Linked DNA regions of Homo sapiens. The protein of the gene in region 1 interacts with the protein of each later gene in a biochemical or structural test. Each region holds a gene or a part of one and is shown on either strand. Other genes may lie near its edges.

What was found.
Region 2: the proteins of MC5R (region 1) and POMC form a complex in vitro, tested with the Homo sapiens proteins (one study listed by BioGRID).

What each region holds. Positions count from the first base shown.
Region 1 is NC_000018.10:13,820,167-13,827,368, reverse strand, and holds MC5R (melanocortin receptor 5), read right to left. Parts: upstream 3,221-7,202; 5' UTR 3,095-3,220; intron 1,643-3,094; 5' UTR 1,604-1,642; coding exon 626-1,603; 3' UTR 46-625; downstream 1-45. UniProt on the Homo sapiens protein: Receptor for MSH (alpha, beta and gamma) and ACTH. The activity of this receptor is mediated by G proteins which activate adenylate cyclase. This receptor is a possible mediator of the immunomodulation properties of melanocortins.
Region 2 is NC_000002.12:25,160,353-25,165,860, reverse strand, and holds the end of POMC (pro-opiomelanocortin preproprotein), read left to right. Parts: intron 1-175; exon of another isoform or gene 176-225; intron 226-1,038; exon of another isoform or gene 1,039-1,068; 5' UTR 1,069-1,088; coding exon 1,089-1,220; intron 1,221-4,108; coding exon 4,109-4,780; 3' UTR 4,781-5,001; downstream 5,002-5,508.

The DNA.
Region 1 (7,202 bases):
TTTATGTCTGGGTAAGCGCAACACCATGATTGACAGAAGTACAATTATTCAGACAATTATGAACAAAAGCCATGAATCAAAAGTTCAGGCAAGGGGAGCAAAGAAGACATTTCAGAACAAATGAACAGATTGCTTCTGATGGAAAGAATCTGGCCACTCTTTTCTTCCCTGAAAAGCATGCATAGCTCAGAGTGCAGCCAGCAGAGTGTGGACCTGCTTCTGGGGAGAAGAAGCAATCCCACCTGGCGTCGATATCACGGTTTTCTTCGCGTCACAATACGTGTTTCATCATGTCTGGCTTGCACTGAGGGTGCTGTGCATTCCCCGAGCACATGCCTGCTAGGTGGAGGGTGGATGGGGCCCCCAGAAATGGGTGGGAGCAGTAGAAACCATAGGACACAAAAGGACAGTAAGAAATTGTCATGACTGTCCCCAGAGTGGATAAGCAACCCTTGCATGTTGGACATAATCACCAGGAACTGAACAGAGAGAGCCTCTTAGGCCCATGTCTGAGCTGGTAAAGAGAAAAATGGGATGCTAGCACTCCCGCCTACCCCTTGGCTGTCGCTTTGTCATAGGTGAGCAAACAAAGGAGAACAGAGCCACAGAGAGGAGCACTTTGTGCTTAATCCCTTCTGGGAAAGCTGCAGGCGATCCTGAAACCACGGCAGCAAATAATCTCCTTAAAGGTCTTCCGCATCTCTTGGCTGCGGAAGGCATATATGAGAGGGTCCATCACGGAATTACACATGATGAGTATGAGGTACATATTGAAGTGAGACATGAAGCGAGAGCAGTAGAGGTTCTGAGGGCAAGAAAGCATTAAAGTGAGATGAAGGAAGAACGGGGCCCAGCACACGGTAAACACGCCCAGCAGCATGGTGACGGTGACCGCGCCCTGCATGCTGGTCCTCTGCCGCGCAGAGCTGGCCCCGGGCAGAGCCGCGATCCGCTTGACGTGAGTCCGCGCCAGGAGGAACATGTGTATGTACAGAGACACCAGGAGGAACAGCATAGCGAAGAACATGGAGATGAGGCACAGGATGACGTAGGTGGATTCTGAGTACAGGATGAAGACAATGCCGCAGCCCGTGCAGAAAGCCCAGATGCCGGCGATGATGGCCCCTGAGCGCCTCGCCGTCATGATGTGGTGGTAGCGCAGGGCGTAGAAGATGGTGACGTACCTATCCACTGCAATGGCCAGTAAGCTGCACATGGATGCCACCACGGAAATGCAGATCATGGAGTCAAACACATTGTCAATGTGGCGCACAAAGGCGTCTGCTATCACTAGGTGCTTGTTGTTGAGTAGGTAGATGGTGATGGTCTCCCAGGCACTGGACATGCTCACCAGCATGTCCGCCACTGCCAGGCTGCACACGAAGAAGTACATGGGGGAGTGCAGGTTTTTGTTCTTCACTATGGCCCCTATGACCAAGATGTTCTCCAAGAGGCTGATGACACCCAGAGTGAGAAACACCTCCACAGCAATGCCCATGTCTTCACATGGTGAAGACTTGTTTTTGACATTGGGTCCTGAAAGGTTGCCCTCTGTGGCATTCAGGTTGAGATCCAAGAAATGCAGGTGAAATGAGGAATTCATTGCTGGAGAAATACACCTCTTGTCTTGGCAGCAAATTTACTGTAAAACATGTTTTAAATTCACAATCCAAAGAGGTTAGCAGCCTACCAAAGAAAGACAGCAGCTAGCCTAGAACCAACACAGCCTAAGAAAGGGGATGAATGACACAGTGCATCAGAGGACTGGGCTCGGCTCACTCAGTCCTTTTTTTTTTTTTTTTTTAAGAGACAGGGTCTCCCTATGTTGCCCAGTCTGGTCTCAAACTCCTGGCCACAAGCGATCTTCTCTCTCAGCCTCCCAAAGTGCTGGTACTACAGGGGTGAGCCACGTGCCCGGCAGCTGGCTTGCACATTCTGACCTGCGTTCCTGAGACCTGGAAGAGTGCCCCTGGACACGCAGATTAGAATCTTCACCAGCCTCTTCTGCTCTCCTTGCTTTCAGCTCCCAGCCTTTCACATGCATCTTACTAGAGAGACACTCACCTCCAAGTGCCCAGGACAGTTTCACTTTTTATGGCTTCTCTCCTGGGCTCAAGTTCACTATCATAAGTGTCCCCAACTCATAACCTACAAAATCCCAGCCAGTCTCCCAATGTTCACATTCCTAAGGCTACTGCACGACATTCTCCTCAAGGGAGCTCCGATTTAAGACTGCCCAGACCCGTATTCCCTTAAGACAGACAGACAGGTGCATCCCTAACACTTGTCCTGACACTTCTTAGACCCATCAGGATTCAGCCTCCACAGCTGTAAGTAAGGCTATAACCAGAATGGTCTGTTACCCTGAGCAAAGTCACATGTTAAAAGCTACTGTCTTAAGTTTGTAAGTGTAGGCTGCACATACGTGTTAAAATTGAGGAAAACAGTGCTGCTTTTCCCTCAATACCTATTTTTCCCTCGCTTCTGCATTATGTGGAATTCCATGAGGTCTGCTTGATAGTTTATTAGGTCCGCGTGAGCACAGTATTTAAAAAAAAAAACAGCAATTTAAATGTACCACACTCCTTTGTTGCAAAATTTCTCTCTTATGATTCATTTTCAAAAATCCCTTTGCCCTCCAAACTCAGATCACATCTGGAGAGAATTTCTGTCATCACTGTCATCATTAATATTTGTAATCACTTTGGGAGGGAGGGAGGGGGTGAGGGACAACAAATTACTTAATAGGTACAATGTACACTATAGGGGTGATGGCTACACTAAAAGCCCAGTCTCCACCACTATGCAATACATCCATATAACAAAACAGCACCTGTACCCCCTAAATCTATAAAAATAAAAAAGGAAAAAATTGGTAATCTAAGCATTTATTGAACTACAATCATTTGTTACAGCTGAGTTCCAGCTCAGATATATCGGTAAATTATGCAATTATACTAAACATCATATCGAGCTGTGTTAAAAACTCACGGGGCAAGCTAGCTGCCGCCCCGCTCACTTCCACATGCAGCGGAAGCGCGATTTTGCATTTATTCTCAGGATCTCAAGGAGATAGAAAGTTGTGGCTATTTACCGGTGCTCCTCCTCGCGGGCCGCGGCGCTCAGCCCGGGCCCCCGGCGTCCCCGGGATCCGACGGCCGTGCGGCGCTCAGAGCCAGCCCCGGACGGGCCTCTCCCCCAGCTAGGCGGCTGCGGCTCTGCGGGGCTTTAAGCCTCCTGCCTGCCCGCGCCGGGCCCGCCTCCGCACCGCCGGCTGTCGCTCCGGGCGGCCTCCGCTGCCACCTAGTGGCCCAGCACGGCACAGCGGCCAGAGAACCGCGTCAGCCCCGAGCGAAAATCCCCCCGAACACACTCTTGAATGGTTGGATGGTTGCTTGGTTGGTTGGTTGGTCGGTCGGGTCGGTGGGTCGGTCGGTCGGTCGGTCGGTCGGTTGAATGGTTGGTTGGGTGAGTGGTTGCTTGGTTGGGTAGTTGGTTGGTTGAGTGGGTGGGTGGGTGGTTGCTTGTTTGGTGATTGGTTGGTTGGGTGAGCAGGTGGTTGCTTGCTTGGTTGGTTGGGTGGTTACGGGTTAGTTAGTTGGGTAGGTGGGTGGTTGCCTGATTGGTTGATTGGTTGATTGGTTAGGTGAGTGGATGGTTACTTGGTTGCTTGGCTGGTTGGGTGGGGGGTTCGTTGATTGGGTAGGTGGGTGGTTCCTTGGTTGGTTGATTGGTTGGTTGGGTAGGTGGGTGGTTGCTTGGTTGGTTGATTGGTTGGTTGGGTAGGTGGGTGGTTGCTTGGTTGAGTGAGTAGATGGTTACTTGGTTGCTTGCTCGCTTGCTCGCTTGCTTGGGTGGGTGGGGGGTAGTTGGTTGGGTAGGTGGGTGGTTGCTTGGTTCGTTGATTGGTTGCTTGGGTGGGTGGGTGGTTGGTTGGGTGAGTGGATGGTTGCTTGGTTGGTTGATTGGGTAAGTGGGGGTTGGTTGGGTAGGTGGGTGGTTGCTTGGTTGGTTGGTTGGGTCAGTGGGTGGGTGGGTGGTGGGTGGTTGCTTGGTTGGTTGGTTGGGTCAGTGGGTGGGTGGGTGGGTCGTTGGGTGGGTGGTTGCTTGGTTGGTTGGTTGGGTCAGTGGGTGGGTGGATGGGTGGTTGGGAGGGTGGTTGGTTGGTTGGTTGGTTGGCTGGGTCAGTGGGTGGATGGATGGGTGGTTGGGTGAGTGGTTGCTAGGTTGGTTGGGTCAGTGGGTGGGTGGATGGGTGGTTGGGTGGGTGGTTGCTTGGTTTGGTTGGTTGGGTCAGTGGGTTGGGTGGATGGGTGGTTGTGTGGGTGGTTGGTTGGTTGGTTGGTTGGGTCGGTGGGTGGATGGATAGGTGGTTGGGTGGGGGAGTGGTTGGTTGGGTCAGTGGGTGGGTGGATGGGTGGTTGGGTGGGTAGCTGCTTGGTTGTTTTTCTGGCTGGTTGCACTTTTTGTTTCTTTTCTCTTCCTCTTGAGCACTGATTAAAATGCTCCCGAGCTCAAAGAGGGCTTGTCACCCCGTTTCTCCTGGACAGTGGTCTCTGGGATGTCCTGATGATTGTTCTTTGGGAAGGAGGCCCAGTGCCTGGGAGCCCTCATCTGTGGCCCTACCACGCCCCTCTTTGCCCAAGGCTCTCACCCCTCCTCCAGGACTACACATGCCATGCCAGGCTTTATCAACCACACAGGCTTTCCTTACTCCAGCAAAAAAGAACAAAGGATGTCCTCTCACCAAATATCCTGGCCTTTCGCAATAGTTTCTGGACCCCACTCCTTCTCTGACACCTAAAACTGACCTTCAACCCCCAAAAGAATCATTATACTCACAATAAGCAGAAGTGCCACTGCCCTGCAAGCCAGGGCAGGATGCACGGGGCCATATCACTACCAGAGCTTTCCTTGGGCTTTGCAGATGATCACAACCTTCCAGTATTTCAAGTGTGGGGACCACAGTCTGGCTGGCCTCACGCCACTGGAGTCCCAAGCCGTGCTGGGAGCCACAGGGTGGAATTCTAGAAGGAGGTTCTGAATGTTGAGAATACATATTGGGAATGTGGTGTGAGGGAGGGAACCCATTTCCGTGTGTTGAAAACATCAGCAGGGTCAAGCACTCCCACATATAGTCCTCACATCCAAGATCAGATCAGAGAGGGCTCTGCAAAAGGTCCTGGTGTCCCAGGAAAGTGCTCAAAATGGAGGGCTCTGTGCAAGATGAGCAGCTGGACCACAGCAGGCGGCCTCCCACAGTGGTGAGGGCGGCTGGCCCAGGGGCCCTATGTGCAGGGGTGACCCTGAGTGCTGCACAGGAATTACCTTCCTCAACCTTTACGAAACCCTAGAAGTGGGTTTCTCCTCTCGCAATGGAAGGAGCCGGTGCTGGGAGAGGTGACTTAGCAAGCTCCAGCTTCCAGCGCTAGAGAGCTGAGCCCCGACTGACTCAGAGCCCAAGCACTTTCCCCGGCAGGACGCAGCCTCCCTGAGAGCCCTGGTGCCACCGGGCATTATTCTTTTAAAATGCTGCTGGATTTGATGTGCAGTGTTCCTGTCTTCATACTGTCTTTATCAGATTTTGGTATATAAGTTACCCTAACTTTGTTTAATAAACTGGGGAAATATTTTGATTATTTTTATATTCTGAAACACCTTAGGTGATGTAGGAATTCTCGGTTTCTTGCAGGAAAATAATTGAATTAAGGTTAATAGAGTTAAGAGAATAGAGACTAAGCTCTTCAACTGTTCCTGTCATTGGAAACTTTCTCCCAAACAGCAGCCTAATGACAATGCTGAACACACACGATGACATGAGCCACCCAGGAAGGAATGTTCCTTTCCCTGTCAAAGACCAGCATAACATGCAACAACCCAGGTGTTTTATTTCTTGAACAATGACAACAGAGAGGATTCTCAATTCGAGTGCACAGAGACAACCCGTGGAGTCATATCTGTGAAGGCTTGCAAGGGTCAAATCTAGCTGGACACTGGATGTCTCGGCCTGGGTTCTCTGAGTCACAGGCTCTGAAGAGTTCACCATGCAGGATGCTGTGGGGAAGCCTCCTGGGGGCAGGCCTGCGGAGGGAGGGATGGGAGGGGAGGGAGAGAAGAGAGCTGCCAGGCAGCTCCAACAACCTCAGCCCTCACGCCCCACCCAGCTCAGTCACCAGAAGCAAGCTGCTTCCGGGAAGGTGTGAGGCCAAACCGGAGGGGCTGACAGCTGGGGGAGGCAGCAGACCACCCCTACAGTTGGGCAGCAGGTCCTCCCCTGAGGTGTCTGGCACAGCTCTGTGTCTGTCGCTCTCATGGCGCCAGAAAACTCTTATCAAATGTCATCTCTGTGCTCAACACCACCAAGGGGCTGGACGAAGGCACTAAAAGACCTGCTGCAAGGCAAAGCTCACCCAAGTGAGTGCTGAGAAAGCAAGATAATCACAAGTGCTGGGTTATGACAATTTTTAAACTCCAAGGATTACAAAATACTTTCATATATTAACTTACGTAGTCCTTAAAGCAACCCTGGAAGGTATTAACATTATTACCATATTCATAGACACAGACTCTGAGGCTCATGGAGTTTCTGACACTATTTGGCTGGTCAGTGGTGCCACCAGCTGTTGATCCAAATCTTCTCAATCCCAAGCCCACATTTATGTAGATGCACTTGCCCATGTCACACATGAACATTGGGCAATGCGATCCTAGATATGCACGAGTTTCCCACCTTACTTAGAGAAAAGGAAAGGAACATTTGCTGGGAGCCTGCAGTGTCCAATACTGTGGTCTGCATGTCCGTATTCTCAGTGAATTCTCCCAGCAGCCCTATAAAGTCGACATTCTTCCCAGCATCTTACAGATGGGGAAGCTGAAGCTCTGAGTAGTCATGTGACTTCTCAGTTGGTGATGAAAGCAGGATCAGGATCTGAATCCAGACTTCCAGGTGGTATCTGTGCTTAATCACAGTCTAAGGACTCAAGTCCTGTGCCTCAGTCCCATTGCCACAGAGGAGGAAACTCAGGTGCCCTGGGATCCCAAAGGCAGGCAGAGAGGAACAGGGAGAGAGCATGAAGCGAAGGGAAGAGAGTTGGACATGCAGAGAGGCCCGTGATGGGTACAGAATGGGCCAAAGCAGGAGATGGAAGCTGAGGGCTGAAGGGTGAAATGCGGTCACCAGGTGGGAGGAGGCTGGGGAACAT
Region 2 (5,508 bases), on another chromosome or scaffold:
TGGCGGTGAGCTGATCTCCGGCCTCGAGGTGGCTTCAGGGGGCCCACCTGGTTAAGGGAAATTTGGCAGTGCGAGGGTAGTGCTGGAGAGAGGGGTGGGTACAGGGGGCTAGGGGCACCATGGATGCCCCCTCCTTACTGTCCCCTGGTGTCTTGACCTCAGCTTCTGCCCACAGGCACTTGCTGGATTCTCCAAAAGTATCTGCAGTGGCTGTTCCACCAGGAGGTAATTCCCTTCTGGTCTCTTTCCCCTCCACATCTGCATCCTCTTCAAATCCTGCCATTTCAGACCACATTTGAGAGCTCTAGAGAACAAGACATCTGACACGTGACGTGTCCAGAAGATGAGCCAGATTTCAAAGAACTGAGATCTGCTTTAAAAACGAAGCTCTCCAAAGTTACTGGAGTCTGGGTAATAGTGATCACCAGAGTAATTTGTGTGCAGGACATCAAATCAGGCTGCTCGAAATGCTGCCTAAATTGGCCAGTGGTTTTATTTGCTTTTCTGTCAACCTAATATTCATAGGAAATAGAGTTTCAGAGGAATGATAGGATCCTGGTGGAATAAAAAGGGAAAAGACCATCTTGAGCAGGAGTTTCAGGGTCCTCCGTTTTTCCCAAGTTACTTTCACTCCTGAGATCTTGCATGTTAGAACTACAGCTTAATGTAGTGAAATAGGAAAGTTCTCTGTTAGGAGCTTAGCCTTACCTTGTCATGGACATTAAAGTAATTGTCTCTCTTTGGGCTTCAATTTTCCCATCTCTCATGGGAAGGGCTGAACCAAGCAATCCCCAAAATAGCTTCCAGCCTTAACCTTTTTAGGGGTCTCGTTTAAATAGAAGATAACAGGGAAATGGTCACAGTTTACCCACCATTCCCTCCTCCTTATCACAACTTATACCACCGCTGTACTGCACACCTCCTTTCTCAGCATTGCTGCTGTCCTTAAAATGCCTTTAACTCCACAAGAGAGTGTGTTGTTAATGTTGGCTCAAGGTCCTTCCTGGTGAGTGGCCAACATTGTTTTGCTCCTTGCAGGGGTCCCACCAATCTTGTTTGCTTCTGCAGAGCCTCAGCCTGCCTGGAAGATGCCGAGATCGTGCTGCAGCCGCTCGGGGGCCCTGTTGCTGGCCTTGCTGCTTCAGGCCTCCATGGAAGTGCGTGGCTGGTGCCTGGAGAGCAGCCAGTGTCAGGACCTCACCACGGAAAGCAACCTGCTGGTACGTGGGCCATGACTGCCATCTTGGCTTAGACATTAGATGGGACTGGAGCTGGGAAAGCTCAAAAGAAAAGGGTGTGGGGAAAGGGAAATTCATTCCCAGTGATAGGCGTGATTCAATCCAGGGCAGGAGCAAAACTTTGCAGTGAAGTAAGAAATGGGAGAAGAAATCAGGGAAGGAAGCAGCTTCAGGGAGAGGGGTTGAGTCCACAATTTCTGCTTGGTTATCCTTACTTCTTGCCCCATCTTTTATGGAGACCTTGAACCCTTTAAGCTAGAGATGGTGCTATAAGAGCAATAATGGACCCCTCAATCTATTCTGTACTTTAAATCTTTAGCTTCCCAAACTATTCCTTTTTAAGAAGCTCATATCACTTGCCATTTTCATTCCATATTTCTTACCCTTTTATCTACTACCGGTTGCAAAACCAGCCAGGTAGTTCTTCAAATCATCTCTGGAAGAAGGAAAAACCAGGGGCCCTTTTTTTTTTTTCTTTAATTGGTGCCAAATGTCTCATGTTTATTCTGGAGGACTGGCCTTCTGCTGTGTTCCTCTACAGTCTTTCCAGAGCATGTGAAGGCCCTTTGCATCAGGCAGGAGCTCCCTCCAGGTCACCACAGGGTGTATGTATCTGCCTGTGGGGGGTGTGTGTGTGTGTGTGTTGGGGGGCATAAATGAGTAATGATGCCAAATCCAGAGATTAAAAGGCACACTGAGACCAGGCGAGATGGCTCATGGCTGTAATCCCAGCACTTTTAGATGCTAAGGTGGGAGGATTGCTTGAGCCCAGGGATTCAAGACAAGCCTGGGCAACATAGTGAGACCTCCACTTCTACAAAAAATAAAAAAGTTAGCCAGATGTGGTGGCATGTGCCTGTAGTCCTAGCTACTTGGGAGGTTCACTTGAGGCCAGGAGTCTGACGACACAGTAAGCTATGATCACACCATTGCACTCCAGTCTGGGTAACAGAATGAGACCTTGTCTCAAAACAAAACAAAATGAAACAAACAAACAAACAAACCCCCATACTGTTAGTGTCAGTGACCGGAATTTTAATCTTGTTGCCATCACCTGGCAGGTGCTGAGGGTGGAATGTACATAACTACATTCTGTGTATTTTGTCAATGCAGAAGCTGAGTTAAGGTGAAGATAGAATGAGGTCCTCAAAGACACAGACCAGTTTTCATGTGTAATATAAAATAGAAACAAAGAGCCCAGGGGATTCTGTGAGTTCCAGTTTGGAAAGACCCAAGAGTCTCTTGACTTGAGACACCCACAGCACAGCTCACCAGGGAGGGTGCACTGGACACAGTCAGGACCCATGGGTTCTAGACCCAGTTTTGAGGTGTGGGACCTTGACCAGGTCCTATCACCTCTCTGAGTCTCCTGTTTCACTATCTGTCCACGGGAGGGGAGTGTAAATTAGTTTTTTCCATTGTTAACGTTCCACAGAGTTGTAATTCTGAACACCTGGAGTAGGCAATGTCCAGCTCAACAGAGTGGGTAGGATCCTTTTATTTTCTCCTTTGCTATTCCCAAGAAAGAGAGCAGCCAGTGAGCTTTTCATCTTTTTATCACTGAAAACTCAAGGCTGCAGCCTATGCAGCCATTTTCCTAAGCTAATATGTACCACAATAGAGTCCTCTAGGGACAAGGAGCAGAGACACAGGTTCCACAGACGGTGCAATGGAAATAACGCTAGCTTTCCACCCCTCCCTCCAGTCAGAATGAGATTACAGGGAAATAAGCTTGCCCCAGAGCTCACTGGGGGATCTCTCAGAAATCAGCTCAGAAGTCGTGAAAGAACCAAGGTGCAGTTTTGGAGGCTTAGTGCAGAGATGGAGCTGGGGTAGGGCATAAAGTAGGTTTTTCATCACTGAGGTAAGGTTGAGGCATTATTTTTTATTTTTTGTTTATTTATTTATTTTTTTGAGACGGAGTCTCGCTCTATCACCCAGGCTGGAGTGCAGTGGCGCGATCTCCCCTCACTGCAAGCTCCACCTCCCAGGTTCACACAGGTTGAGGCATTATTAAAAATATGTTTAAAAATATGGGCCCTAGTAGCCAGACTTCTATCACCTGGAGAGATTATCCCCCAAATTTCAGCCCCACTCCCCTCCTGGACTTGAATTAAACCATATGTATTTATTCAATATTCTTTTTATTTATTTATTTATTTTTTTGAGACGGAGTCTTGCTCTGTTGCCCTGGCTGGAGTGTGGAGTGCAGTGGTGTGATCTTGGCTCACTGCAACCTCTACCTCCCAGGTTCAAGCGGTTCTCCTGCCTCAGGCTCCAGAGTAGCTGGGATTACAGGCGCCCGCCACCACACCCAGCTTATTTATTTATTTATACTAGAGATGGTATTTCACCATAGTTGGCCAGGCTGGTCTTGAACTCCTGACCTCATGTGATCTGCCTGCCTTGGCCTCCCAAAGTGCTGGGATTATAGGTGTGAGCCACCGTGCCCGGCCCTCAATATTCATTAAGTGCCAACAACTACCACCCGTCTGCCTTTCTTGGAGCCACTCCTTTATGTCAGGCATATAACAGTAAGACTTTGGTCCTGTTCACAAAAGCTAGGGGTGGCTAGATGGCTAGACAAACCATGGAATGGGATGGGAAGTGTGTTGCAGTTGCCAGGCAGAAGCATGAAGGGGATGGGACAAAAGAGGCAGTGGCAAGATCTTAGATGCCCACGAGTGCCAAGAAAGCAGGTGGGCAGACCTGCTCTGTAGGGAGGCCTCGACGCTTGACACGCCCGACACTGTGCCCTGTGTCCTCGGCACGTGGCGAGGGCGGCCAGGGCCTAGGCGCAGTGACGGGCGCGGCAGCCGGGCCGGGGTGCGGGGCACGGGCTGCCCTCATGCCCTCGCGTCTTCCCCCAGGAGTGCATCCGGGCCTGCAAGCCCGACCTCTCGGCCGAGACTCCCATGTTCCCGGGAAATGGCGACGAGCAGCCTCTGACCGAGAACCCCCGGAAGTACGTCATGGGCCACTTCCGCTGGGACCGATTCGGCCGCCGCAACAGCAGCAGCAGCGGCAGCAGCGGCGCAGGGCAGAAGCGCGAGGACGTCTCAGCGGGCGAAGACTGCGGCCCGCTGCCTGAGGGCGGCCCCGAGCCCCGCAGCGATGGTGCCAAGCCGGGCCCGCGCGAGGGCAAGCGCTCCTACTCCATGGAGCACTTCCGCTGGGGCAAGCCGGTGGGCAAGAAGCGGCGCCCAGTGAAGGTGTACCCTAACGGCGCCGAGGACGAGTCGGCCGAGGCCTTCCCCCTGGAGTTCAAGAGGGAGCTGACTGGCCAGCGACTCCGGGAGGGAGATGGCCCCGACGGCCCTGCCGATGACGGCGCAGGGGCCCAGGCCGACCTGGAGCACAGCCTGCTGGTGGCGGCCGAGAAGAAGGACGAGGGCCCCTACAGGATGGAGCACTTCCGCTGGGGCAGCCCGCCCAAGGACAAGCGCTACGGCGGTTTCATGACCTCCGAGAAGAGCCAGACGCCCCTGGTGACGCTGTTCAAAAACGCCATCATCAAGAACGCCTACAAGAAGGGCGAGTGAGGGCACAGCGGGGCCCCAGGGCTACCCTCCCCCAGGAGGTCGACCCCAAAGCCCCTTGCTCTCCCCTGCCCTGCTGCCGCCTCCCAGCCTGGGGGGTCGTGGCAGATAATCAGCCTCTTAAAGCTGCCTGTAGTTAGGAAATAAAACCTTTCAAATTTCACATCCACCTCTGACTTTGAATGTAAACTGTGTGAATAAAGTAAAAATACGTAGCCGTCAAATAACAGCAGCATGGATCGGAGGAGCACAGTGGTTTCCATGCGGTAGGATATTTCACAGGACTTAGTGAGCGTGAAAGGAAAATGTGCTTCCTGCCCCCACCCCCAAATGGATCTTCGAGGGATCAGATAGTTTGGGTGAAGGCACAGGGTGGCTCCAGCACCTCTAGGATGGCCGTATTTTCCACACACTCCACTGAGTGGGAGACTGCTCAGCTAGCACACGTGTAAAGGCAGGATTCCTGCAAGAGTGACCCCGGGCGCTCAGGGGCTCCCCGGCTCCGGTCCACCTCCAAAAGCCAGTTGGACAGGTTGAGGCCTACCCACGCCTGGGAGTGCTCTGGACTGTCAGGTGAGAAGTCTTGGTAATGTCTCCGGGGAACTGCTCGTAGCAATCCATGGGACCTTAGGCAAGTCTCTGAACTTCTCCAAAATTTAGTTCTTTCATCTACCCCTCCCTTCCCAGTATGAGGGTTATTGTGAAGATTAAAGGAGAAAATGGACATAATC